Linked DNA regions of Homo sapiens. The protein of the gene in region 3 binds, or shares a complex with, the protein of the main gene of each other region. Each region holds a gene or a part of one and is shown on either strand. Other genes may lie near its edges. A codon is read from its position in the direction of its gene.

What was found.
Region 1: the proteins of TFDP1 (region 3) and RBL1 are in contact, whole or in part, in a crystal structure (PDB 5TUV), measured with the Homo sapiens proteins. Residues at the interface, in NP_009042.1 of Homo sapiens: Pro260, Phe261, Ile262, Thr290, Phe291, Glu292, Ile293, His294, Asp295, Ile297, Glu298; in NP_002886.2 of Homo sapiens: Tyr1004, Phe1006, Asn1007, Ser1011, Leu1014 (codon at 3,087), Ile1017 (codon at 3,078), Asn1018 (codon at 3,075), Ile1021 (codon at 3,066).
Region 2: the proteins of TFDP1 (region 3) and RB1 are in contact, whole or in part, in a crystal structure (PDB 2AZE), measured with the Homo sapiens proteins. Residues at the interface, in NP_009042.1 of Homo sapiens: Gln222, Glu225, Leu226, Gln229, Ile262, Val271, Asp273, Asp288, Asn289, Thr290, Phe291, Glu292, Ile293, His294, Asp295, Glu298, Arg302; in NP_000312.2 of Homo sapiens: Ile835, Ser838, Phe839, Thr841, Ser842, Phe845, Gln846, Ile848, Asn849, Val852, Cys853, Asn854, Ser855, Val858, Leu859, Lys860, Arg861.
Region 4: the proteins of TFDP1 (region 3) and E2F1 are in contact, whole or in part, in a crystal structure (PDB 2AZE), measured with the Homo sapiens proteins. Residues at the interface, in NP_009042.1 of Homo sapiens: Glu201, Cys202, Leu205, Glu206, Glu208, Arg209, Arg212, Leu213, Arg215, Ile216, Lys219, Gln220, Gln222, Leu223, Leu226, Ile227, Gln229, Gln230, Phe233, Lys234, Leu236, Val237, Arg239, Asn240, Arg241, Glu244, Pro251, Ser255, Val256, Ile257; in NP_005216.1 of Homo sapiens: Arg202, Leu203, Leu206, Thr207, Asp209, Leu210, Leu213, Gln214, Ser216, Glu217, Leu220, Asp221, Leu223, Met224, Ile226, Cys227, Thr228, Gln230, Leu231, Leu234, Asp239, Ser240, Gln241, Arg242, Leu243, Ala244, Tyr245, Val246, Thr247, Cys248.

What each region holds. Positions count from the first base shown.
Region 1 is NC_000020.11:36,995,840-37,002,011, forward strand, and holds the end of RBL1 (retinoblastoma-like protein 1), read right to left. Parts: intron 3,091-6,172; coding exon 2,920-3,090; 3' UTR 510-2,919; downstream 1-509. UniProt on the Homo sapiens protein: Key regulator of entry into cell division. Directly involved in heterochromatin formation by maintaining overall chromatin structure and, in particular, that of constitutive heterochromatin by stabilizing histone methylation.
Region 2 is NC_000013.11:48,299,510-48,306,762, forward strand, and holds the start of RB1 (retinoblastoma-associated protein), read left to right. Parts: upstream 1-4,241; 5' UTR 4,242-4,403; coding exon 4,404-4,540; intron 4,541-7,253. UniProt on the Homo sapiens protein: Tumor suppressor that is a key regulator of the G1/S transition of the cell cycle. The hypophosphorylated form binds transcription regulators of the E2F family, preventing transcription of E2F-responsive genes.
Region 3 is NC_000013.11:113,622,749-113,629,771, reverse strand, and holds part of TFDP1 (transcription factor Dp-1), read right to left. Parts: intron 6,593-7,023; coding exon 6,486-6,592; intron 6,480-6,485; exon of another isoform or gene 5,011-6,479; coding exon of another isoform or gene 4,765-5,010; intron 4,269-4,764; coding exon of another isoform or gene 3,543-4,268; exon of another isoform or gene 1-3,542. Other genes in the region: uncharacterized protein LOC124903219, read right to left, coding at 3,543-4,268, 4,765-5,010. UniProt on the Homo sapiens protein: Can stimulate E2F-dependent transcription.
Region 4 is NC_000020.11:33,683,385-33,690,523, forward strand, and holds the start of E2F1 (transcription factor E2F1), read right to left. Parts: upstream 3,002-7,139; 5' UTR 2,881-3,001; coding exon 2,620-2,880; intron 1-2,619. UniProt on the Homo sapiens protein: Transcription activator that binds DNA cooperatively with DP proteins through the E2 recognition site, 5'-TTTC[CG]CGC-3' found in the promoter region of a number of genes whose products are involved in cell cycle regulation or in DNA replication.

The DNA.
Region 1 (6,172 bases), on a different chromosome or scaffold from region 3:
CCACCATCCATGTAAGATATGACTTGCTCCTCCTTGCCTTTTGCCATGGTTGTGAGGCCTCCCAGCCACGTGGAACTGTAAGTCCATTAAACCTCTTTTTCTTCCCAGTCTCGGTTGGATATTTCTTTATCAGCAGTATGAAAATGGACTAATATAGTATCTAAGACTTAAAAAAAAATTTAAGGTGAAATCAAGACTTAAAAAAAAATTTAAGGTGAAATCTACATAACACAAAATTAACCATTTTTAAATGTCCAATACAGTGGCATTTAGTAAATTCACAATGTTATGCAACTACACCACCTCTATCAAGTTCCAAAATAGTTTCATCACTCCCCCCCCAAAAAACTCTGTATCCATTAAGCAGTTATTTTTCATTTTCCCCCTAGACCCTGGAAACCACAGGAACATTAACTTTTAAGTTATTCTAAGGAATTTTAGAGACATAGATATTAAAACAGACAGATTTCAGATGGCTGTGCAACTGCTTCCAGTCATACAGAAAAGAGTTTTTTTTCAATAATCTCAATTCCAATTTTTATTAGCCATTCTATGTACATTGATACCAAGTCCTGAAAACTGATAAAAACATGTCCAGAATTTCTTTTTTTCCTTTTCTGAGAAAGGGTCTTGCCCTCTCACCTAGGATGGAGTGTAGTGGTGCAATCACAGCTCACTGCAGCCTCAGAATCTCCCAGTCTCAAGTGATCCTCTCATGTCAGTCTCCTGAGTAGCTGGGACTACAGGCACATGCCATCACACCCAACTAATTTTTTTATTTTTTGTAGAGATGAGGGCTATGTTGCCCAGGTTAGTCTTGAACTCCTGGACTGAAGCAATCCTCCTGCCTCAGCCTCCCAAAGTGTTGGGATTATAGGCATGAGCCACAGGACCTGGCCCATGGTTTCTTATACAGTCAATGTACAAATGCTCATTTATATTTTGCACAATAATGAAGATAAAAATAACAATTATAGCAACATACAAATATGTACAAAGATTCCAGACAGACTTTGTTTTTTGGCTTATAACAATGTGTAGATACTACACAAAGAATGAGGATGTAATTTTCATTTACAAGCAAAATGTGACCAAAATCCCTTTTCTTCTTAAAATTGAAAAATGAAATTCTTGAGAATACTAATTAGTGACGGCCAAATCTTAGACTATTTTAAATTAGCCATGGTTAAACATAGGTGAGTTAAACATTGTGCCTTTCCAAAATTAAGGTTTGCAGTTAGAAACATAAACATTTGATAAAACTTCTCAAAATTAATTATGAGTGGCTTATTCATGTCCTTTGGATTCCAGACACACACTAGAAAAAGTAAACGTTAAAGAGGTGATATTTTGGAAAGCATCCCTAGTACTGAAAAGCATCCCTAGCACTGAAAAAAGCATCCCTAGTACTGAAAAGCATCCCTAACACTGAAAAAAGCATCCCTAGTACTGAAAAACATCTTCAGGAGTACTCAGTACTCCCTAGTACATCCCTAGTACTGAAAAAAGCATCCCTAATACTGAAAAGCATCCCTAGTACTAAAAAACATCTTCAGGAGTACCCAGTGGTCAAACACTAGCAGGAAACTCATGATGCACTAACAATACTGAGAACAAAGTGTGGGAAGTAATAAGCAGCTATTTTACTGATGTATTAAATATATTAGAATTATGAGGCATGAGATGATATTTATGTGATTTTTAAAAGGTTTAAAATATTCTTAGGGACTCAATTAGATATTGAGAATGACTGATAACTATGATCTCAAAAACAGTATATCACACATAATCATGGTGTTACCTTACTAATAGGAATTTAGTTTTTAATAACTAACTGAATTTTATTTTACTGGCTTCAGAAGCAGCTGCCTATTTTGAGAACTACATGAGTTAATACGATCATATATAATTAAGTTAATGTCACAGAAACCAAAATGATAATAGTTTACAAAAGAAGAAAGTGCCCCATTTATTGGGTTGTGACATCAGGCTGAGATGGCTTAGGGCTGGAAAGCAAGGATGAGTGTAGCACTGGGGCTCAGGTACAAATCTGTTTATAAAGCTCAAGGAGAGAAAAGGCACGAGAAGGGGTGAGACAACTCTGAATGGCGGTGGTACCTGGATGTGGAATTACCACAGTGGGCCAGAGACAGGATGGTATATAACCCTCTGGCCAGGTACTATGGGAACCAACCCCTTCCTTCAATATTAAATTAAGAATACAAATATCTCAAAGCATGCTATCAAAAGTAGATTATTTATCCTCATATTACAGAACACAGAAGGAGACATTTATTTTTAAAAGAGAGCTAAAAAGTTATGGGGTTTCTCCTTATTTCATCTTGAAAACTCAAGGAGCAAACATTAAAAAAAATTCCCTATTTATATATATATATATATTTTTTGAGATGGAGTTTTACTCTTGTTGCCCAGGCTGGAGTGCAGTGGCGCAACCTTGGCTCACCACAACCTCCGCTTCCTGGGTTCAAGCAATTCTGCCTCAGCCTCCCAAGTAGCTGGGATTACAGGCATGCGCCACCACACCCGGCTAATTTTGTATTTTTAGTAGAGATGGGGTTTCTCCATGTTGGTCAGGCTGGTCTCGAACTCCTGACCTCCGGTGATCTGCCCGCCTTGGCCTCCCAAAGTCCTGGGATTACAGGCGTGAGCCACAGCGCCTGGCCGGACTATTAGTATTTTTAAAAGGCACTTAAAATATTCCTTTCCAATCCAACTCAAAATACATCTCTGTCAACTACATTTTGGATAAATATTTTAAAAAGCACATAATTTTTGTGCAATTTTTTCTTATAACCCAGTGATATTTATCATCTATAGGGCTAAAAGGTTTGAAGGACAGAGCTCCAACTTTCTGCAGAACAATCTGAAAGTGCTTTTATCATAGAAACAAGAACAACATTAATGATTTGCTCTTTCACTGACAACATCCTGTAGTCGTTTCAGTAAAACGTCATCATTTTCTTGACAGACGCGTTTGGCAGGGGATTCTGCATCACTATCGATGGCTATTACTCGCTTCTTGGTTCTCTGCTCACCTTGCCTTATCATGTTGTTGATATCTTTCAAACTCTGTGCAGAAATAGAGAACGTGTGTGAGTAAAAGAGGGAGAGGGGAAATGGCAGCAAACAACCAAGCTAATTGTTTTTTCCTGTGCTCTATCCTCTATCCAAATCTTAACACTGGGATAAGGACTCTTTTTAAAACTTAGAACAACCTAATAAGGGATGGCTTGAACTAATCTTTTCAGGTGGTTTAAAAATTAGATTTAAGGCCAGGTGTGGTGGCCTGTAATACCAGCACTTTGGGAGGCCAAGATGGTTCAATCACTTGAGCCCAGGAGTTTCAGACCAGCCTGGGCAACATGGCAAACCTGGTCTCTACAAAAAATACAAAAATTAGCCAGGTGTGGTGGCTTGTGCCTGTAGTCTCAGCTACTCGGGAGGTTAAGGAGCATCACCTGAGCCTGGGGAGGTTGAAGCTGCAGTGAGCAGTGATCATGCCTGGGAAACAGAGTGAGACCTTGTCTCAAAAACCAAACCAAGAATAGAAAAATAAGCTTCCCGTCTCCCTCCTCTCCCTCTCCCTCCTCTCCCTCCCTCCTCTCCCTCTCCCTCCTCTCCCTCTCCCTCTCCCCACGGTCTCCCTCTCCCTCTCTTTCCACGGTCTCCCCCTGATGCCGAGCCAAAGCTGGACTGTACTGCTGCCATCTCGGCTCACTGCAACCTCCCTGCCTGATTCTCCTGCCTCAGCCTGCCGAGTGCCTGCGATTGCAGGCACGCGCCGCCACGCCTGACTGGTTTTCGTATTTTTTTGGTGGAGATGGGGTTTCGCTGTGTTGGCCGGGCCGGTCTCCAGCTCCTAACCGCGAGTGATCCGCCAGCCTCGGCCTCCCGAGGTGCCGGGATGGCAGACGGAGTCGCGTTTACTCAGTGCTCAATGGTGCCCAGGCTGGAGTGCAGTGGCGTGATCTCGGCTCGCTACAACCTCCACTTCCCAGCTGCCTGCCTTGGCCCCGCAAAGTGCCGAGATTGCAGACTCTGCCCGGCCGCCACCCCGTCTGGGAAGTGAGGAGCGTCTCTGCCTGGCCGCCCATCGTCTGGGATGTGAGGAGCCTCTCTGCCTGGCTGCCCAGTCTGGAAAGTGAGGAGTGTCTCTGCCCGGCCGCCATCCCATCTAGGAAGTGAGGAGCGTCTCTGCCAGGCCGCCCATCTTCTGCAATGTGGGGAGCGCCTCTGCCCTGCTGCCCCGTCTGGGATGTGAGGAGCGTCTCTGCCCGGCCGCCCCGTCTGAGAAGTGAGGAGACCCTCTGCCTGGCAACCGCCCCGTCTGAGAAGTGAGGAGCCCCTCCGCCCAGCAGCCACACCCTCTGAGAAGTGAGGAGCCCCTCCGCCCGGCAGCCACTCCGTCTGGGAAGTGAGGAGCGTCTTCGCCTGGCAGCCACCCCGTCTGGGAGGGAGGTGGGGGTCAGCCCCCCACCCGGCCAGCCGCCCCGTCCAGAAGGGAGGTGGGGGGGTTAGCCCCCCGCCCGGCCAGCCGCCCCATCCAGGAGGGAGGTGGGGGGGTCATCCCTCTGCCCAGCCAGCTGCCCGTCCGGGAGGGAGGTGGGGGGGGTCAGCCCCCCCGCCCGGCCAGCCGCCCCGTCCGGGAGGTGAGGGGCGCCTCTGCCCGGCCGCCCCTACTGGGAAGTGAGGAGCCCCTCTGCCCGGCCAGCCGCCCCGTCCAGGAAGGATGTGGGGGGGTCAGCCCCGGGCCCGGCCAGCCGCCACATCCGGGAGGTGAGGGGCGCCTCTGCCCGGCCGCCCCTACTGGGAAGAGAGGAGCCCCTCTGCCCGGCCAGCCGCCCCGTCCGGGAGGGAGGCGGGGAGGTCAGCCCCCCGCCCGGCCAGCCGCCCCGTCCAGGAGGGAGGCGGGGGGGTCAGCCCCCCGCCCGGCCAGCCGCCCCGTCCGGGAGGTGAGGGGCGCCTCTGCCTGGCCGCCCCTACTGGGACGTGAGGAGCCCCTCTGCCCGGCCAGCCGCCCCGTCCAGGAGGGAGGTGGGGGGGTCAGCCCCCCGCCCGGCCAGCCGCCCCATCCGGGAGGTGAGGGGCGCCTCTGCCCGGCCGCCCCTACTGGGAAGAGAGGAGCCCCTCTGCCTGGCCAGCCGCCCCATCCGGGAGGGAGGTGGGGGGGGTCAGCCCCCCACCCGGCCAGCCGCCCCATCCGGGAGGGAGGCGGGGAGGTCAGCCCCCCGCCTGGCCAGTCGCCCTGTCCCGGAGGGAGGCGGGGGGGTCAGCCCCCCGCCCGGCCAGCCGCCCCGTCCGGGAGGTGAGGGGCGCCTCTGCCCGGCCGCCCCTGCCCGGCCGCCCCTACTGGGAAGTGAGGAGCCCCTCTGCCCGGCCACCACCCCGTCTGGGAGGTGTACTCAACAGCTCATTGAGAACCGGCCATGATGACAATGGCGGTTTTGTGGAATAGAAAGGGGGGAAAGGTGGGGAAAAGATTGAGAAATCGGATGGTTGCCATGTCTGTGTAGAAAGAGGTAGACATGGGAGACTTTTCATTTTGTTCTGTACTAAGAAAAATTCTTCTGCCTTGGGATCCTGTTGATCTGTGACCTTACCCCCAACCCTGTGCTCTCTGAAACATGTGCTATGTCCACTCAGGGTTGAATGGATTAAGGGTGGTGCAAGATGTGCTTTGTTAAACAGATGCTTGAAGGCAGCATGCTCGTTAAGAGTCATCACCACTCCCTAATCTCAAGTACCCAGGGACACAAACACTGCGGAAGGCTGCAGGGTCCTCTGCCTAGGAAAACCAGAGACCTTTGTTCACTTATCTGCTGACCTTCCCTCCACTATTGTCCTGTGACCCTGCCAAATCCCCCTCTGCGAGAAACACCCAAGAATGATCAATAAAAAAGAAAAAAAATGGAAAAAAAAAAAAAAAGAAAAATAAGCTTCCCATTATGCAAGAGTCCTATGGCCTTTGTGCTTTCCTACCCTGTGAACTAAGAGTCTAAATCTGTGAAAAGATGTCCATGAGGTAGAGTTGAATTAAAATAGCAGGTTGCAGAACAATAAAAAAAAAAAAAAAAAAAAAAAACAAACCAAACCAATCCAAACCAAAACAACTGAATTTACTGTATAACAGTAGCTCTCGATGTGTAGTACC
Region 2 (7,253 bases), about 65 Mb from region 3:
CTGAACTGTTTAACAAGCAATGTCCAATGATCATGCACTCGGATATTCCTGAAATGTCAAATTGATATAAACACTGCTAAGCACTTATCCTTTTAATTTCTGTACTTATTTCCTTGTGGACTAAACACAAACAGTTCGCAGACTGTCACTGGTCCAAGAACTACACTTTGAGTAGCATTACTCTAGGGAGCACTTGCATTGAAGGGACCGGCAGAAAGAGAACTAATGAAGGAATTTGTGAAGTAACAAGGGAGGAGAACAAGGAGACCATAGATTTGTGGAAGACTAGGGAATTTTTAAGAGGAAGTGGTTAACTATATTGACTGCAAGAAAGGTCAAGTAGGTTGAGGACCAAAAGAAGCCATGGGATTGACAACTATCATCAGTGACATTTGAAAGAGTGATTTCAGAAGGGGGCTCTTGGTGGTAGTGAAAGAAAGCCAGGGGCCAGCAGGCTGAGAAATTGGGGAAGCAGAGAGAACCAATGGGGACTACCCTTCTAAGAAGCTAGATGGTTAAGAAATGGAAATAGTGTGGTAGCTTGGGGGTATAAAAACTTTGAAGGAAGGCTTTTTAGAACGATGAAGACTTTTTAGACCCTTCCCCAAATTTTAATATCACTGAAGGAGTCTCAAACTGAAGAGAGTTCCCTCTCTAGATAGAAAATCTAAGAAATACATATATTTTTTGTAGGAGTCTTACAGCAATCTTCTTAAAATTACCAAGCAGGTTGGAAGAGATCCATGAATTTCAAGAAGTTCAGGGGGAATTTTTTTAAGACTCTGCTGAAATATATATATATATATATATATATATATATATATATATTTTTTGAGATGGGGTCTTGCTCTTGTCGCCTAGGCTGGAGTGCAGTGGCATGATCTCAGCTCACTGCAACCTCTGCCTCCTGGGTTCAAGTGATTCTCCTGCCTCAGCCTCCAGAGTAGCTGGGATTACAGGCACCTGCCACCACACTCAGCTAATTTCGTATTTTTGGTAGAGATGTGGTTTCACCATGTTTGCCAGCCTGGTCTCAAACTCCTGACCTCAGGTGATCCACCCGCCTTGGCCTCCCAAACTGCTGGGATTACAGGCGTGAGCCACCGTACCTGGTCTAGACTCTGCCGAAATTCTAATACTTCTTTGGTAATGCAACAGAAAACTAAAGATTTTGATGGTGAACTCAATTGCTTCTGAGTTGTGTGGATGAAAATATATTTTATTATTTTTTCCTTCAACTTTTAAGCTCCCAGGTATATGTGTAGGATGTGCAGGTTTGTTACACAGGTAAATGTGTGCTATGGTGGTGTGCTGCACAGATCAACCCATCACCATGGTATTAAGCCCAGCATCCATTAGCTCTCCTGATGCTCTCCCTCTCCCCACCCTTCCCCGCTACAGGCCCCAGTGTGTGTTGTTCCCCTTCCTGGGTCTATTTTATGGTATGTATGTGTGTATGTGTGTGTGTGTGTGTGTGTGTGTGTGTGTGTGTGTATCTATTTATGTGTATATATTATGATATATACACCACACTTTTTTCAAACTATTATTTTAGGTTTAGGGATACATGTGCAAGTTTGTTATATAGGTAAACTGTGTGTCTCTGGGGTTTGGTGTGTACAGATTTTTTCACCACCCAGGTAACAAGTGTAGTACCTGATAGGTAGTTTTTTGATCTTCTGTCCTCTCACCCTACACCCTCAAGTAATCCCCCAGTGTGTGTTGTTCCCCTCTTCATGTCCATGTGTTCTCATTGTTTAGCTCCCACTTATAAGTGAGAACATGCAGTGTTTGGTTTTCTGTTCCTGCGTTAGTTTGCTGAGGATAAAGGCTTCTGGCTCCATCCATGTTCCTGCAAAGGACATGATCTCATTCCTTTTTATGGCTGCAGGAAAATATATTTTACATACTAGTGAACATAGTTAAATTAATCCATGGTCAAGACATATATTCTTTTGTAAATTGAGAAATCTCTTTATCATAATTGTAATATGGTAATAAATAAATCTAGATTACATAAATGTAATCTAGATGTTGATAAACTGGTTTTAAATAAAGCAAGTGATATCTACGTATGAAGAGAGTTTACTTCAGTTCCTAGAACTTTCCTTCACTTTCCTGCCATCCCTACTTTTAGTAAGCAAGCATTTACTGTGTGTGTAACACTGTGCTAGGTACTAAGGCAATGATGATACCCAAGATTTGGTCTCTATCCTGAAGATAAGCACAGGAGAAACATTATCAGTCATGATGCTTTCTGTTGCAAACAAGTGAAAACCTCAGCTCAGCTTAGGTCAGCTCCAGGGCTGGCCAAATCAGAGGCTCATTTATAACACTGAGGATCCAGATTCTTTTGAAATTCCTCCTGCACCAATATCAGCATTTCTACCTTCTCTGTAGGTTGGCTTGCCTCACGTTACAATGGCTGCAGCAATCAGAAGTGTCACATCCTCAGTAATACTTAATATTATTACTATTATTTAATAATATTTAGAACTGTGCCATCCCTGTTTCAATTTATCAGGCTCCCAGCAGACTACTCCTTATCTTTCAAATGTCAAAACTGCATCCTGAGCTCTTGCCTAAACTAATCTGGGGTGAGGTGAATGGAAGTAGCACTTTAATTGTATTCATTCTTTGTAGCTGGACCTGGGCCTGGGCCCTATCTCCTGACATTTGCCCACAAGAAAGATTTCTGAAGTTAGGTAGGACTGGCTGTTGAGTAGGCCAGTGCTTGCCAAACCTTTACACATCCTCACATATGTCATAATATGCAGATAAAAAGATAATCCCTTATACAACTTGCTGGGATAAACTCAGGAGGCTTACAGCCATGACCTGCTTGAAGGTTCTTCCTGCCTTAGACCTTGCTCAGCTGCTCCAGGATGAGGGGATTTACATCACAGCACAACTGTATTTTATTCACAGCATAAACCATCTCTTTCCTTCTCAGTTGACGAGTTCAGATGGGCAATAACAGTGTCTGCCAAAGAGAAAAAAAAATGTATTCAAACTAGATAATCTATTGGTACAAATACCGAGACACAGAAGTGATAACAGCTTTAAGCCAATGTTTGATGGTGGTAGTCCCAGCAAGCTCTTTTCTGATGTCTTTGTGCCTTTGCACATGCTCCTTCTCTGTCACTGTTTTCTTCATCAAACATAATATAATGGACAAGTGGAATCAAATAGAATTGAGTTCAAATTCTCTGCTACCCATCGGCCCTGGTATTGGACAAATTAACTCCTCTGAGCCTGTTTCCTCATCTGCAACGTAGACTAGCTAATACTACCCATTGGAAAGCGTTGTTTCTTAGCTAATGCATGCAAGGCTTAAAACCTAGATGACGGGTTGATAGGTGCAGCAAACCTCCATGGCATACGTATGCCTATGTAACAAACCTACACGTTCTGCACTTGTATCCCGGAACTTAAAGTAAAAAAAAAAAAAAAAAAAGAAAAGAAAGAAAGAAAAAGAAAAAAAAGGCTGTTTCTGGGGATTAAATAAGACAATTATGTAAGGTGGCCAGCACAGTTCCTGGTACATAGTAAATGTCAGGCCTGCCTGACAGACTTCTATTCAGCAGCTACTGCTCCCCTGAAAATCTTCCTCAGACGTTTCCACGGTGCTTCCCGTTCTTACACCACTACAATCCTTTATTACACTACTATCCGTTCATTCCCCACAGCTCCCTCCCTTCCTTTCCCTAACCAGTGATCCCAAAAGGCCAGCAAGTGTCTAACATTTTCTATCTTCTAAGTGACTGGTAAAGTTCCGCACCTATCAGCGCTCCAAGTTTGTTTTTGTTTTGGCCGACTTTGCAAAACGGATTGGGCGGGATGAGAGGTGGGGGGCGCCGCCCAAGGAGGGAGAGTGGCGCTCCCGCCGAGGGTGCACTAGCCAGATATTCCCTGCGGGGCCCGAGAGTCTTCCCTATCAGACCCCGGGATAGGGATGAGGCCCACAGTCACCCACCAGACTCTTTGTATAGCCCCGTTAAGTGCACCCCGGCCTGGAGGGGGTGGTTCTGGGTAGAAGCACGTCCGGGCCGCGCCGGATGCCTCCTGGAAGGCGCCTGGACCCACGCCAGGTTTCCCAGTTTAATTCCTCATGACTTAGCGTCCCAGCCCGCGCACCGACCAGCGCCCCAGTTCCCCACAGACGCCGGCGGGCCCGGGAGCCTCGCGGACGTGACGCCGCGGGCGGAAGTGACGTTTTCCCGCGGTTGGACGCGGCGCTCAGTTGCCGGGCGGGGGAGGGCGCGTCCGGTTTTTCTCAGGGGACGTTGAAATTATTTTTGTAACGGGAGTCGGGAGAGGACGGGGCGTGCCCCGACGTGCGCGCGCGTCGTCCTCCCCGGCGCTCCTCCACAGCTCGCTGGCTCCCGCCGCGGAAAGGCGTCATGCCGCCCAAAACCCCCCGAAAAACGGCCGCCACCGCCGCCGCTGCCGCCGCGGAACCCCCGGCACCGCCGCCGCCGCCCCCTCCTGAGGAGGACCCAGAGCAGGACAGCGGCCCGGAGGACCTGCCTCTCGTCAGGTGAGCGAGCAGAGCCGCCGTCGCCTCACGCGGGAAGGGCGCCCCGGGTGTGCGTAGGGCGGGCGCCAAGGCGGCTCGGCGGGGATCCGTCCTCGCCAGGGGCCGGGTCCCGGCGGGAGGAGGCGCCCTCCCTGCCCCCCGCCACGGCGGAGCGTCTGCAGAATGGTGACAGGATTCTGGGTTCTTGGGCGAGGGGTCTCGGCTTCAACTTGACAGGTGTCGGGCGGGTGGGGCTAGGGTCCTGAGCGAAGTGACAGGTGCAGTTCCCTCTTGTGAGGCTCGGAGGCAGAGGGTCGTTGCGAGCGTCCATCAGACGCAAAAAATGAAAAATAAAAATACAAAAATGGTGTCTGTGGGAGAGTTTTTCACCGGAGAATTGGAGTACTCCGGTGGTCGTCTGACTTTCTGTTTTGGTTCACGCGATGCAACAGTTGGGAAGTATTTTCTTCCGGGCGTGCACTGCATCTGAAGTCCATTTGTGGGAGAGGCCGACCAGAAAGCCTTGGACAAGAAGCGCAGGGTCCTGAGTGTCCATTGCCCACAGGATACTCGGCTCAGGAGCTTTGCGGCGTTTCCTTAGAACAATAATGCATCGAGGCCTTGGGGACTCAAAGCCATCTGTAGTGATTGATGGAGCGTAACTCTTTAGAGGAACTGAAACATGGGCAAAACTTTCATGAGACATTTACCAGAAGTGCTTGAAAGTTTCTAAACTTTTTTTTTTCCTGTTTGATGAACTCTTCTTGCGTGTTAGTCGGCTTCGGCTTGTCTCATTATTTCTTCCATTTTGCCTTTTGACTTTGAACCAGCAAGGATCTTGGTGTCCCCTCTTTTTGCCTTTGTTTTTGGCACAAAATTAGTGGTTCTGTGCGCAAATGGAAATTTTCGTTTTCCCTTATTAAGTGGAATCTAAATTTAAGCAAGTCCATACGAATGCACTAGATCTTGAAGGGAAGTATTTATTGTATTACAACATCTTACTTTTCTTGATTTTTCTACTTTATGGTTAAATAGCTATGATTGAAAGAGTGTAATTGTCATTATTGTCAGCACTGGTTCTACTTTGAGACAAGTTCATTGCAGAGGGAATGGGACTTGTTTCTGTTTTTCACTATTTTCTCTCCCATTCTTGTCTATCACCAAATCCTTTCACCCTCACCCATTTCTTTCCACTCGGTATACACTAACAATTCACGGCAGAAAAGATTGAAGTGGGATTTAGGAAATGGCCCCTGGAAGGCTATTAAAAATTTATATATTTAAATGGACTGTCTTATAGGTCAGTTAAAAACCATATTCGTTAAAAAACCAAAATAACAACAACAAAAAATTAAAAACCACGTCTGGGGCATGTTCTGGGAAAAGACATGGCTTTAGTTTCTGATTAAATTCTGATGTATCCAATTCTTGCAAATTTCCCTTGGGAAAATGCAGTAATGGCTACTCTAAAGAATTCCATGTTATGCACACAGCTTTGGAAGCATACTCTAATGTAGGGTAACCAGGAATATTGACGTTGTGGCCACTGCTTGGAAAAAAGAGGACTGTTTCTTTCATTTTTTAACTCATTTTATATATTTTAAGTAATGGAACTATAAAAAATTCTCTTATAAGTCAAAACCATACAAGATACAGTCTGTTCTTGATTATCCATACCCACAAAGGGTTTCATTAACATAGACAGTTGAACTCTATAAATTAACCAGCAAGGGTAGAACCGCTGCCGTGCAGTCTGATACTGAGCATCTTGCCTGGAGATGGAATCAAGGCTCAGTCCAACTGCACCTCCAGTGACAGATTCCATTCCTGATTTGAGAGTTTAGATCTTATTTCTGTTGCCTTATCTCTGGCCTAAGTAATGTAGCTGGAAGGGAAACTGTCACTAGGAACAGCATACCACATTCATTGTTGAAATAATCAAAGGTTAATCATGTTTCGAGCTGGGTGTGATGGCGCGTACCTGTAGTCCATGCTACTCAGGAGGCTGAGGCAGGAGGATCACATGAGCTTGGGAGTTGGAGGCCAGCCTGGGCAACAAAGCAAGACCCCAGTCTTTAAAAAAACAAAAAAGCTGACCAGGCATGTTGGCTCACGCCTGTAATGCCAGCACTTTGGGAGGCCAAGATGGGAAGATTGCTTGAGGCCAGGAGTTTGAGAGGAGCCTGGGCAACAAAACAAGACCCTGTCTCTAAAACAAATTTTAAAAAATTAGCCAGTGGCTGTGGCACACCTGTAGGCTCATCTACTCAGGAGGCTGAGGTGGGAGGATCCCTTGAGCCCAGGAGTTTGAGACTGCAGTGAGCCATGATTTCACCACTGCACCCCAGCCTGGATGACAGAGTGAAACCCTATTTCAAAACAAGAAAAAAAAACAAAAACTAATTATGTTTTGAAGGAGGAATTGGCAGTCTAGAATAGTGGTCAAGGGCATGGATTATAGAGTTAGACTGTTGGGCTCACATAGTGGTTTACCTCTTACCGGCTGAGACCTCAGGTAAGTTCTTTAACTTCTCCAATTTGACAGACATCTGTAAATGTCTACTTTTACAGATGAGAATACTTATCTAAAAGGGCTGATGTCGGGATTCAGTGAAACCATATGTTTAAGGTACTTTCTACAGGATCATAGTAAATACTCAAAAATTATTAATTATTCTTCATACTATTCTTATTAGTAGATAACACATAGAAATTAGATGAATGAAAATGAATT
Region 3 (7,023 bases):
GGAACTGACTTACAACGAGGAACTTACAAGGAACATCCCGATAAACCCGCATGAGCTGAAAATACCCTAAGTCGAAATGCACGTCATCCACCTCTCCTACCACACATCACAGCTTAGCCAGCCTACCTTACACGTGCTCAGATCACGCATGTTAGCCCAGTCGGGCAGAAGCATCTCACACAAAGCCCACTCTAGTCAAGTGTGGGTATCCCAGGAGACCCACTGAATACCACACTCAAAATGAAAAATAGGACGGTCGTATGGGCAGTGGAAGCAGTTTCCACTGAATGCATGTTGCTTTTGGACCATCTTAAAGTCAAAATCACAGGTCAAACCCACTGTAAGTTGGGAAGAAGAGAAAGCCAGAGGCAGGTACACACCAGGTGCTCAATGGTGCTCACCAACAACCTTTCCTGGAAGACAGGACTCAGCACCCAGGGGCACCCTGAGAACGAGCCACCAGTGCACTGGGAATGCGTTGTTTACGGAGGCCAGGTCTTACAGGAAGCTCTCCTTACTCTCCTGCTTTAACTGCTCCCTGCGGAAGGCCCCGCGGCATCCGGCCCATGCAGTGCTGGGCAAGGGTGCCTGCACCTTCCTCTGCGTGCCCTGCGTGGCAGCTCCCCTCACTGTGTCTCCGCAGCACTGTCCCTGCTCCTCACCCATCACCTGCTGCTCACCAGCCCTGTGAGCTGAGTCAGCATCACAGGGGCGGCCTGGAGCCAGCCCTCCCAGGAACGAGACAGAGGCTTTGCTCCCGGACCTGGCACAGGTGTGTGCGTTTCCTTCCTGGTGCACAGGAAGCCGGTGAACTCGGGCCGGCCGCCTGTGCCACAGGACGCCTTCCAGTCTCCCATTCAACAGACATGGAGCAGGCCCCCGGCCTCACTTCCCTACACCAGGAGCCACACTCAACAGCCAGAGGAGGCACGGCAACACACTGAAGCCCTGGAGGGCGTGTGTGGGCAGAAGCGCAGGGAAAACAGGAACCAAGGAGGTGCCAAAGGGTGGATGGGACAGTGCCGGGAAGGATAGTTCAGAGCTGGGCCCCTAGGGAAAAAAAGGAGGTATTGGAAGCAGTGGCCACGCTAGCTGGAGTGGTGGGCAGAGACCCTGGAAGGGAGAAGTGGTCACAGCACAATGAGGGGTACTGCCCAAAGCTGGGAGGCTGTGGGTCCCACTCCAACCAGGGCTTTCCAGGAGATCCAGGAGCCTCTGGGAGCAGGAGGCAGGCAGGGGCTGAAAGGCGCCAGGGACACCCACCCCTTAGATTTAACAGCGGCTTCTCTGGAGGATGGGCTCCGCCCTCACGACTCCCTCACCCGCCTCTCGCTGGGGAGCAGGGGAGGTGACCCAGGCCCCACAGGTCATAAGGGGTCTCCCTTCCTACTGTGCTCACGGCTGGAATCCAAGCTGCGCTTCAGAGAAAGTAAATGACATGGCTTCAGACACAGTCTACATGGCTCCAGACACAGTCTTTACACGGCTCCAGACACAGTCTTTACACGGCTTCAGACACAGTCTCTACACGGCTCCAGACAGTCTTTACACGGCTCCAGACAGTCTTTACACGGCTTCAGACACAGTCTTTACACGGCTTCAGACACAGTCTTTACACGGCTCCAGACATAGTCTTTACACAGCTTCAGACACAGTCTTTACACGGCTCCAGACAGTCTTTACACGGCTTCAGACACAGTCTTTCGACTCTAAAGCTTTTGCAGCTTCCACGCCAGCAGTCGTTAGAAAACAGCTCCAGGTGGAAGCATCCCACAGTAGAGGACCTGCCGGAGGTCCACCTTGCCCGAGACCAACCCTCCTCCCCCAGGAGCTCCCCTCCTCACTGGCTGCACAGTGAGCCTTGGTGTTTAAAGCAGCGATCCCCCACCTTTTTGGTATCAGGGACCAGTTTTGTGGAAGACAGTTTTTCCACAGACCGGAGTCGGGGGTAGTTTCGGGAAGAAACTGTCCCACCTCAGATCATCAGGCATTCGATTCTCATACGGAGTGCCACCTAGATCCTGCATGTGCCGTTCACAGTGGGGTTTGCGCTCCTGAGAACCTAATGCTGGGATCTGACAGGAGGCAGGGCTCAGGCGGCTGTGCGGCCAGCTTCCTAACAGGCCCAGGGGTTGGGGACTCCTGATTTAAGGCATCCCTTCTGCCCTAAGTGCACACTTTTTGCACCTTAATTTCACACACTCTAAAAACTGAGATTACGATGTCTCCGTGTAGTGTGACCCCACTCAGACACAGAATCCTAGAGATGGACCAAGGTTAACCGCGGTGTCCAGAGAGACAGGGCCAGTGGCGCAGCTGCAAAGGAAAGGCCACTGCGACCACAGATGCCGACTTCTGGGACACAGGCCTGGGTGGGGGGCTGCTTCTCCCCAGGGGCTCACACAGGCCGCTGCTCCTGCCGGCTGAGCACATATGTCCTCTGTCCCGCACACGTTCCTGTGCGCGTGCTGAGCTCTGCAGCACCACAGGCTTCACAAGCATCCGCACCTCAAAAGACCCTGACCTTGACAAGCCCTGCGCCTGCTGACTGGTGCAGGTCAGAGACCTAAGGACCTCCCCACCGCTTTCACTCACATGCCCGGACTGAGCCCCACCCCTCGTGTCAGAATGAGCCAGTCCAGTTTTTTGTAAACCTCTGGTATATAAAAAGGTTTAAGAAACATTTGCCCTTTGTCAGCTTTAATTCCCATCACTGGGATTTTGCAAAGCACAAAACAGCAATGACAAACTCCACCCGAACAGCTGAATTTAAATCAGGAACTTGACTTTCAGTGACGAAGTTTAAAGCACATCAATAAGATAATCTTCTCATTCGTTTCCCCCCAGTGTATTCACACCGGCAGTAAAGACGAAAGTGGTGCTACAATTATTCACCCAGACAAACTCTGCTATGACACACAGCACCTATAAAATCAAACTTAGAATTCCTAGTCAACTTATAAGCAAACCTATAATCTAATTATCAAGCAAAACAAAAACTGAATTTTTAGCTTTTATCAAAATGGCATTTACTGAAAAGCCGTGATCTGCTGTGCAACGTGGTTGAAAAGCCGTATGACGTGGTAGGGCTTCCACAAACCGCTACTTTCAATGGCCACAAAACTTCTGCAGAGCAAGTTTTTTGTCACCTTCCACAGGCAGGAAACGGGGCCACAAAAGCTGCCTGGGATCTGGAACCGCTCAATCAGGACAGCTGTGTGGGAGCACACACGGGGAGGGGGGCTGCGGGGAAGCGGGGCGCAGGGAAGTGGGACGCGGGGAAGGGAGCGCGGGGAAGGCAATCCTGCTCAGATCCTCAAGGCTGTGACCCACAAGCCACTCTCTCTTAAAACTCATATCCTAACATCTGTTAAAGAATCCAGAGAATTTCAAGCATATTTAAATAAACGGAAATAGCAGGAATGCATATAAAATAAAGACTAAAGTGCAAAAATGACCAAAATATCCCTGGTATGTGGTCATGTTCTCTGAAGAAAACATGATTAGACCAAAGGGAGATGCCCTAGACAACAAAAAACAGCTCAGTACAGAGAGCTCTCCACAGGGCCAGGGACACCTGAGGATGCCTGGGGATCCATGAGAGACACCTGGGGACACCTGAGAGACACCTGAGGACACGTGAGAGACACCTGAGGACACGTGAGAGACACCTGAGAAACACCTGAGGACACGTGAGAGACACCTGAGGACATGTGAGAGACACCTGAGGACGCGTGAGAGACACCTGAGGACACGTGAGAGACACCTGAGGACACGTGAGAGACACCTGAGGACACGTGAGAGACGCCTGAGGACACGTGAGAGACGCCTGAGAAACACCTGAGGACACGTGAGAGACACCTGAGGACATGTGAGAGACACCTGAGGACGCGTGAGAGACACCTGAGGACGCGTGAGAGACACCTGAGGACGCGTGAGACACCTGAGGACGCGTGAGACACCTGAGGACACGTGAGAGACGCCTGAGGACACGTGAGAGACGCCTGAGGACACGTGAGAGACGCCTGAGGACACGTGAGAGACGCCTGAAGACATGTGAGAGACGCCTGAGAGACACCTGAGGACACGTGAGAGACGCCTGAGGACACGTGAGAGACGCCTGAGGACACGTGAGAGACGCCTGAGGACACGTGAGAGACGCCTGAAGACACGTGAGAGACACCTGAGAAACACCTGAGGACACGTGAGAGACACCTGAGGACACGTGAGAGACACCTGAGAAACACCTGAGGACACGTGAGAGACACCTGAGAACACGTGAGAGACACCTGAGAAACACCTGAGGACACGTGAGAGACACCTGAGGACATGTGAGAGACACCTGAGGACACGTGAGAGACACCTGAGGACACGTGAGACGCCTGAGGACACGTGAGAGACGCCTGAGGACACGTGAGAGACGCCTGAGGACACGTGAGAGACGCCTGAGAAACACGTGAGGACACGTGAGAGACACCTGAGGACACGTGAGAGACACCTGAGGACATGTGAGAGATACCCTGAGAGACACCTGGGGACATGTGAGAGACACCTGAGAAACAGCTGAGGACAAGTGAGAGACACCTGAGGACACGTGAGAGACACCTGAGAGACACCTGAGGACACGTGAGAGACACCTGAGAGACACCTGAGGACACGTGAGAGACACCTGAGGACACGTGAGAGACACCTGAGGACACGTGAGAGACACCTGAGGACACGTGAGAGACACCTGAGAAACACCTGAGGACACGTGAGAGACACCTGAGGACACGTGAGAGACACCTGAGGACATGTGAGAGATACCCTGAGAGACACCTGGGGACATGTGAGAGACACCTGAGAAACACCTGAGGACAAGTGAGAGACACCGGAGGACACGTGAGAGACACCTGAGAAACACCTGAGGACACGTGAGAGACACCTGAGAAACACCTGAGGACACGTGAGAGACACCTGAGAAACACCTGAGGACATGTGAGAGATACCCTGAGAGACACCTGAGGACATGTGAGAGATATCCTGAGAGACACCTGAGAGACACGTGAGGACATGTGAGAGATACCCTGAGAGACACCTGAGGACATGTGAGAGATACCCTGAGAGACACCTGAGGACATGTGAGAGACACCCTGAGAGACACCTGAAGACATGTGAGAGATACCCTGAGACACACCTGAGGACATGTGAGAGATACCCTGAGAGACACCTGAGGACACGTGAGAGATACCCTGAGAGACACCTGAGGACACGTGAGAGACACCCTGAGAGACACCTGAGGACACCTGAGAGACACCCTGAGAGACACGTGGGGACATGTGAGAGATACCTGAGGACACCTGAGAGACACGTGAGGACACCTGGGGATGCCTGAGAGATACTTGGGGACACCTGGGGACACGTGAGGATGCCTGGGAGACACCTGAGGACACCCGAGAGACACGTGAGGACACCTGGGTATGCCTGAGAGACACCTGGTGACAGTGAACGGACAGGTTCTCATCCCACCCGGAGGTGTTCAATCCTTTTAAGAGGACTGGGCCACAGCACAGACGGAGCAGGGTGAGGGGGTGGAGTGGGCCAGGAGGCCGGGGTGCAAGAGGTGCTGCATCACCAAAGCCCAGGGTTGGCAGGAACAGGGCTGGGGCAGCTGCCCAGGCGGGGCCACAGCATCATCTCAGGACCAGGAAGGAGCCCTCAGGCACCATAAACAAGTCCCTGAGGAAGGACTGGAAGCCCGGCCTAGCCTTGGGATGGCTATGTCCCTCACCACCAGCTCCAGTCACAGCCAAACCTGCCCACCAAGTGCCTGGGGCCCCATTTCTGGTGAGGTCAGGATTCTGTGTGGGCTCCCTGTCTCCAGTAGGCTGCCACCGGCAAGGACGCAGAGGGCGGACACGAGACAGGAAACAGCATTATGAGAAGCAGCATCAGTTGGCCAGCATCAGCCTGGGGAGGGGGGATGCGCCACTTCCCAATGCCCACCTTCCCCTCTCCTGTGCGTGGCCAAGGGAGCAGCATCTGCCCTGTCACTGCCCCGGGGCAAACGCACAGCCACGGCCAGGGCCCTATCCCTCTCTGGCTTCCCAGCCTGATGTCTCCAGGAGGGCCACAGCCAACGCTCGGCCACATCACGTAAGAAGCCCCTGTTAGATGAAGAGCTTCGAGCTCTGACACTAAAAGGAAGCTGCCTCTGGTTGGGGCCGCGGCCCCACCCACCACCCTCCAGTTACTGGAAGGATGGCATGGGCTGGGGCACACAGGAGTGCTGTGGGCGCCATCACCTCTCCCACAACAACACGTGGGCAGCTGCAGAGGGCTATGGAAAATCTAGCACTGGCCACGGGCTCCCTGATGAGGGAAAGGCCCCATGCTGCAACTGGAGCCCAAATCCAGGCACACCTGGGAACATCCCCAACCACACGGCTCATCCGATCCCGACCTCACACCGAGATCCCGGCTGTCCGCTCCTGCGGGAGGCTTACCACTTGCTGGGCAATGTTGACATTGGACTGTCCAAAGGTTTTTGGCAAGAGCTGCTTCCCGAGCGGGTTGACGGTGGAGGGGTGAACGGCCACGAGGGACACCACGCCTGCAACACAAGGACACCAGGTCAAGGGCGAGACTCCTTTTCTAAGTTAAGGCTACAAGCGACCATTCTAAATGCAAGACGGTGCTTGCAATTAGAGATGCTTAGCTTTCCCCACGTGTACTGTCTCAAATCCAGGGCTCAAGAGCAACACCTCCATGAAGCTTGATTCCCAATGTAAACCCGTAAGGGGAGGGCCGCAGGGCCGCGCTGACGCCACCCAGGTGACCCAGGCAGATCATCCACTGCTCCAGCCCCTCGGCGATGTCTGCTATGGAACGTGCTGGTGGGGACCACGGCCTGGAAAAGTCTGTGATTCTATGACAATTATGGAACAGAATTTTAAAACTAGAATTTTTATCGCAACATTTCTCTATAAGGCTGCAAAACTAGTTTGGAAATCTGATAATCCACTTTTCCTTAGGAAGGAGAAC
Region 4 (7,139 bases), on a different chromosome or scaffold from region 3:
AGGTTGCGGTGAGCCGAGATGGCGCCACTGTACTCCAACCTAGGTGACAGAGCGAGACTTCATCTCAAAAAAAAAAAAAAAAAAAAGAGTTAAGAGTTAAGTTTTCAGCTGGGCATGGTGACTCACACCTGTAATCCCAGCACTTTGAGAGGCTGAGACAGTCAGATTGTCTGAACTCAGGAGTTCAAGACCAGCCTGGGCAACATGGCAAGACCCTCTCTCTACTAAAAATACAAAAATTGGCTGGGCATGGTGGTACACGCCTGTAATCCCAGCTACTCGGGAGGCTGAGGCACAGAATAGCTTGAACTTGGGAGGCAGAGGTTGCAGTGAGCCGCAATCACGCCACTGCACTCCAGCCTGGGTAACAGAATGAGACCCTGTCTCCAAAAAAAAAATAAATAAATAAATAAAAAAGTTAAGTTTTCTACATTAAACATGTATTATAGTTATAATACTTGAGTTTGTGGAAGTGGACAGGCAGGGCCAAGAGGAATGGCTGAATTGCAGAGCCTTGTATACAGAATGCCTGCTGGTATAGAAGCTAAGCCTGTAGCTTATTTCAAGGACTGTGCCAGACAAATGCCAGTGCAGAGAGGCCAAAAGCCAAACCTGTGGACTTTCTGGACTTCAGTTCCAGAATGGTGCCAGCCTCCTGGCCCTTAAGTACACTGGGGGCCAGGGCTCCTTGTCTCTGGGCCTAGTGCCTCCTGGGCATTCACTAACTCAACAACTGTTGAATGAATGGAATGCCCAGGCCAATGAGCCTGCCCCTGACAGGTGGAGTGGAGGGCATTTTTCTTTGCCCCTGTCCCTCCCTTTGATCCTAGAACCCATAATCCTGTTCAGATCTTTGAGGACAAGACCCTCAGGTTGTTAGATTTCCGCAGACCTGAGCCTTCTATAATGCTTGTCACACAGCTGAATGGAAGATGCTTGCCCAGGTCCCAAGTGGTACCCACAGGAACAGGCCCCTGGAGTACAGGAGACAGGCCACCTGGCCCACCCCTGGTACAACCCCCTCCCACCCACTCATTAAGAGGGAGGGCCCCTAAAAGCCCTTCTTGCCCTTTCTTCAACCTGTATCAGCATCCCCAGAAAGCAAGGCATCCCAGAGGTCAACCTCAGAGGAAACGCAGACTGCTCTCCCCACTCAAGAGCAGAATGACATGGGAAGATTCTAACATCTCTAGGCCTCAGCTTCCCAATCTGTAAAAAGGGACTGCTGCTGATGGGGTTAAATGAGTTAATTAAGTAAAGCGCTTGGCACAGAGCCTGGCACACAAGACATCCTCAAAACAATGGTGGCTGCTATTGTTATTATTATTAGCATTGTGGTGATTCCGGAAGGCAGCACTGGGCATGGGGCCAAGGGGGTTGGGGGAGCCTCCTCAGGATGCCTCAGGGACCAGCTGCCACCCACACCCCCATCAGCAGTTAGGCAGCTTCTACCTCCTTGTCCTGAGTCCTGCCTCACCCCTCCCACTTGCTCCAAGTTCCCTGCTGAGACCCCATCCTGCCTGGCCAGACCCCGCCTGCACACCAGAGCCCCACCTTCACCCATAGGCTGCGCCAGTCAAACTGGTCTCCACACCCTGCCCTGTGCCCCACAGTTCCCAGCTCCAGGCTTCTACGCCTCCAATCCCTTCTCCCACTGGAATTCAGCCGCCTCTTCTGGGCCCTCCAGTCTGAATTCGTCTTGAGCTCAGCGATCAGGGAGGGCTTTATTAAAGGATCTCCCTGAGACATTTTCTCTCCTGGCACTGGGGGCCTCCTCTCCAGCTCCCAGAGGCCCAGCCCACCTAGTCCTTCTACAGAGACTCAGGGGTCGGCCTGCCTGATTAATGAGGTTCCATGGCAACCAGGGCCTGGGAGGGTGGAGGGTGGCAGATGGAAGGACAGGCAGAGGGAGGGGATCAGCAGCTGGTCCAGCTGCCCCGCCCCTGCAGAGAAGGCCTCCCAGCCAGGAGGGCTGTCCCCAGAGGCCTGGCCGGCCAGGCCTGCACCTGGCAGTCAGCATCGAGGCAGGAAGGAGGGTCTCCTCAATGGCTCACCAACGGTTAGGCCCCAGGACTTTCCTCCGCCCCGCCTTCACTTCCCCTAGCAGCTGTGCTCACTACCGAGATGCAAATTCTGAGCTGAAGCCAGCAGGCCTCAGTTCAAATCCCAGCCCCACCACCTGCAGCCGTGTGACCAGGGGCAAGTCACTTTCCCTCTCTGGGCCTCAGTTCCTCCTCCGTCAGATGGGCACAGTGACAACACAGCTCACAGCGGGGTTGTGAGTTTTAGCTGGCTTGAAGTCGCCCAAAGGCCTGGCATGCAGTAAACGCCAGTTGAATACACGTGGGCTATTATTATCACTGAGTCCGACGCTGGGGAGGCTCCGGTGAGGAAGCTGAGGCGCAGAGCACAGAGCAGCAAACAGGGACCGGCCCGAGGTCACCCCGCACCCCAGGGCGGGGCCCGGAGGCCCAACCCCGGCTCTGCACCGCCCAGCCTGGGCGCCTCAGTCAACCCCTCCCCCGCCCCCTGCCGCCTCCAGGCCAAACACGGCGCCCTCCCGGGTCTGCGCGGGGGGCACAGGCGGCGCTGTCGGCGCGGCGTCCCTGGGGTCCGTACCGGCGGGCGGCCGAGCGCGGGCCGCGGCGCACTGGGTGTGGGCCGGGGCGCCTGCGGTGTGGCGAAGAGCAGCAGGTCAGGGTCGCAGGGGCCGGCGGCGGGCGCCGCGGGGCCGGTGGGAGCCGGCGGGGCGCTGGCGTCCTGCGCGGCGGAGATGATGACGATCTGCGAGGAGTCGAGCAGCCGCAGCGCGCCGGCCCCGAGCAGGGCCTCCAGCGCCGGCGCGCATGGGCCGCCCGCAGGGGCCCCGGCCAAGGCCATGACGCTCACGGCCCGCGCGGCCCGGGTGACAGGCGGCGGCGGCGGCGCGGGCCCATGGCGGCAGGCCTCGGCGAGGGCTCGATCCCGCTCCGCCCCCGGCCGCCGCTGCCTGCAAAGTCCCGGCCACTTTTACGCGCCAAATCCTTTTTGCCGCGAAAGAGCCACGAGCCGCCGAGCGCCGCCACAATTGGCTGCCCCGGCCGTGACGGGAACAACGGCGGCGGTTCCTATTGGCTTTAACGCGCCGGACCCGGCGGCGAGGGGCGGGATGGGGCGGCGGCGCGGGGCGGTACGGCCAATGGCGGGGCGGGGCGCGCGCAGGCTTTGTCCGGATGGTACCAGGCGCGGTGTGACTCCCCGCCCCCAGCCCGGGCGTCCCCTGCTGGAGGCGTGGGGACACCGGAACATAGGCCCCGCCCCGCCCCGACGCTCCCGCATCCCACTGACCTTTCTATAGTGCAGGTTCAGAACAGAGCCTCTCTTCTGCACGTGACCCTCAACCTGTAGCCCCCAACAGCCTCAGCTTAGATTTCCAGAGACTGTCCCCTCTTCTTTTCAGGATCATCAGTTCCACAGCCCAGCCATCAGCCACCTCTTCCATCCTCAACTTGCCTCACCCATGACATTATCCTAATCCTGCACCCAGCCCTATCCCGCTCACCCAGAGCCCAAGCTGAAGAGCGGTGCCTGGAAATGGCGAGGGGGACGTCGGGCTTTCCTGCAAGTCCCATTTTAGCCAAAATCTCCAACAGCCAACGTATAGCATCTGCTTGAACTCATTCATTCCCTCACTCATTCAACAAACGTTTGGAGAGCTTGCTCTGTGCCCCATCCTCAATTCGTGGCCCTAAGGAGCTCACAGTCCAGTAGACAGGGGAACAGAAAGGTAACAGACGTTTACAATACGATGAAGTGGCGTCTGGGCGCGGTGGCTCACCACCGGAATCCCTGTAATCAGCTGGCGGGGTGGATCGCATGAGCCCAGGAGTTCGAGACCAGCCTGATCAACATGGTGAAGACCCATCTCTACAAAAAATACAAAAATTAGCCAGGCATGGTGGCGTGTGCCCGTAGTCCCAGCTACTTGGGAGGCTGAGGTGGGAGGATTGCTTGAGCCCGAGAAGTCGAGGCTGCAGTGAGCTATGATCATGCCACTGCACACCAGCCTGGGCGACAGAGCGAGATCCTGTCTCTAAAACAAAAAAAGAAAACACATCACTTCTAGGGAGCCCTCCCAAGGATTTACTCACTTCCTCTATTGCCCACTGCTGCCTCTGCTCCAATGCTGACCACACACACTCCTTTTCTCCATCTGCCTCCCCTGCCAATCTAGGAGCTCAGTAGCGACTCCTCCCAACACTGGTCTGGCCCAGAGCAGGCGCTGAGAAAGGTTATGAAAGAAACAGAGGCTAAGCCAGAGGCTGCCTAGACTGTGACAAGGAGACCACGGTTCTGCAAGGGTGGTCCTTAGGCCACTGGCTTCAGAACCACGTGGTCACTTGCTAATTTTGGGCCCACCCTGGCCCTGCCAATTTAAAATCTCTAGGTGCCCAAGAATCTGCATTTTAACAATGCCATGTCCCCTTTCCAGGTGATATTTGTTATTCTTTTTCTTTTTTTTTTTTTGACACTTAGGGAATTAGAAAAGCCAGTATCTTATTTTTTTTTTCCTATTTATTTTATATAGACGAGGTCTCACTATGTTGCCCAGGGTAGTCTCAAACCCCTGGGCTCAAGAGATCCTCCCGCCTCAGCCTCCAGCATAGCTGGTACTCCAGGTGACTGCCACCTCACCAAGCTTCCAGGTTATTTTTATGCATACTCACATTTGAAAGCAAACTGGTGTACCAGCATAATCAAAATGAGTGGTGCAGCCTCAAATCACAGCTCCTGAGGATGCTTCTCACCCTTAGTTTCAAATGGGCACACAGACCTTGCCCTGGCCCCTTCCAGGGTTGCCAGGAGAATGAAAAGCATAAGGAATTGGAAAGTGTTTTACAAACTATGAGGTGGTTTAGGAAATCAGGAGTTGTTTTCCCCTCCAATGAGTAGTTTCTGAAATTACTCATTGCAAATCCTAGAATGTATCATAGCTAGAAGGGACCACAGAGACCACATAAGCCTCTTGCTGTATGGATAGGAAAACTGAGGCCCTTTCAGGAGAAAGTAACTGTGAAGCCAACCAGTGACCAAATTGGGCCTACACTGCATTCCCAGCCCTGAGGTCTGCCTGTCCCCCTTCCCCATCCCCTCTCCATAAAGAAGCTGAGGGGTAGGTCCCATTCTAAACAACCAACGCAGGTGCTGGCAGAGAGCAAGAGAAACCAGCACATTCCCATTCCAGATGGAAAGAGTGTCCTTTCCCTGCACCTTCCCACAGGGTCCCAGTAACACTAACATTCATTTGTGTGAAGCCCTCTCAAACCCAAGTCATTCAACAAACACTTATTAAGCACCTATTATATACCAAGCACTGTGCTGGTTTAACTGTGGTGGCTGGCAAAGAGAGATGTCTATTATTATTGCTCCATTTTATGATGAGGAAATTTGAGGCCAAAAGGGCCTGAGTTTACCAAGTAGATGAAAAGGTTATTTTTCAGGCTTGGTGAGGCTGAGGTTGGGGGTTTTCCAAAGTCCTGCCCGCCCCAGAGTATTCAAGTACACATCCAGGTAGAAGTAGGCGCCCTCCGTCCCACAATCCTTCAGGTCCTGCTGAAGCAGAAAGGAGTGAAGACCAGCATTCCTAGCATGAAACTGAGGAAGAGATAAGGGCCTTCTGTACCTATTAATACCTACTTGAAAGCAGAAAAGCCTGATAGATGAGGCCCCTTGGCCCTAAGCCTGGCAGCTCCTGATAAGGCTGTTCTCAATGTCAACAGTTTTCAAAAAACAGTTTCCAAAAAATCCACAGTCACTGGGCAGCCACTTCCATTGATGATCTCCTTTCAACCCCATAATCCCGTAAGTAAGCTTGTTTATCCACATGGTGCAGGAAGGAAGAGGCTCAGAGAGGGGCATTCATAGCTCAAGGTCACACAGCAGAACTGAGATGAGAACTTCACTTGTCCCACTGCAAAACCCAGGACCTGCCCTTGCCACCCTCTGTAAATACCCCAAAAGCCAGGCTCAGGGCTGTCAAGATTATAAAGTGTAGTTTCTAAAGGGTATTATGGTGGATAGTGGCTTGGTTCATAGGTGCTTATTTCCATCACCACCTTCACCAACCAAACTAGAGGAGTTCGAGGGGATGCAATCTGTTGGGCCCACAATCCTGTGCCTGGAGACCTCTTTCCCTTGGTTCTTTCCAAGAAGCAGAGTGGTGTAGAGGTGATAGCATGGGCTTCTAAATCAGGTGGGTGTAATCAGAAATCTTGGTCAACATGACCTTGGACAAGTCAATTCACTTCATTCAATCCACAGATATTTACTGAGCACCTATTATGTGTCAGACATTGTGCTAGGTGCTGGGGACACAGTTATAAGTAAAACAGACCCCTGGAACTCACAGTCCAGTGGGAAAGTTAGGAATTATTTCTCTGTCACTGCACAGTATGCTTGTTAAGAAGTTTGACAAGTGACACAAATAATTTAAACCTATTTATTCCACAAACAGCACCTCCCCTAAGCATACATTCTTAGCTTACAAAAAAACAAAAATTCACCAAACATGAATATCCAGTCATGATAAGGAATGCATAATTGGGAGAAAAGATTCTGTGATGACTTAATTTTATGAAGGGCACAGAGATGTCCATTGTTGAGTTGTGGCAGAGGGAGGTGGGGAGTTTTGCATCTGCAACAATCCCTCAATGCTACCCTGACTGACAGTTTACTGTCCCTGGAGATATTCTGTCACTGTGCCAGTTCTGGCTATATCTGAACAGACCTCTTGCCCATCCAAAAGGCAGTCTAACATAGAAACAAGCCTTTGGAGTCGGGTGGCCCCCAACCCTGTGGCTTCCCGCCTCTGTGATCTTGGGGAAGTGATTCACCCTCTTGAAGAGCTTTGCTTGCCTCATCTGCAGAACAACAGATAACAGCTTCTTTACACGATGCGTGTCAAAGTTTAAGAAAACAAAACAAGCAGAGTTTGCAAACTGGCCCCCAGATATAACTCAATTTGCCCATAGAAGATTTTTCTTGAATTATGAATTTGTTTTAAGATTTGAGGAAATTGGAAAATACCATATAAAAATTAACATGTCTGGCTTTTCTTTCTCTTTTCTTTTTTTTTTTTGAGACGGAGTTTCACTATTGTT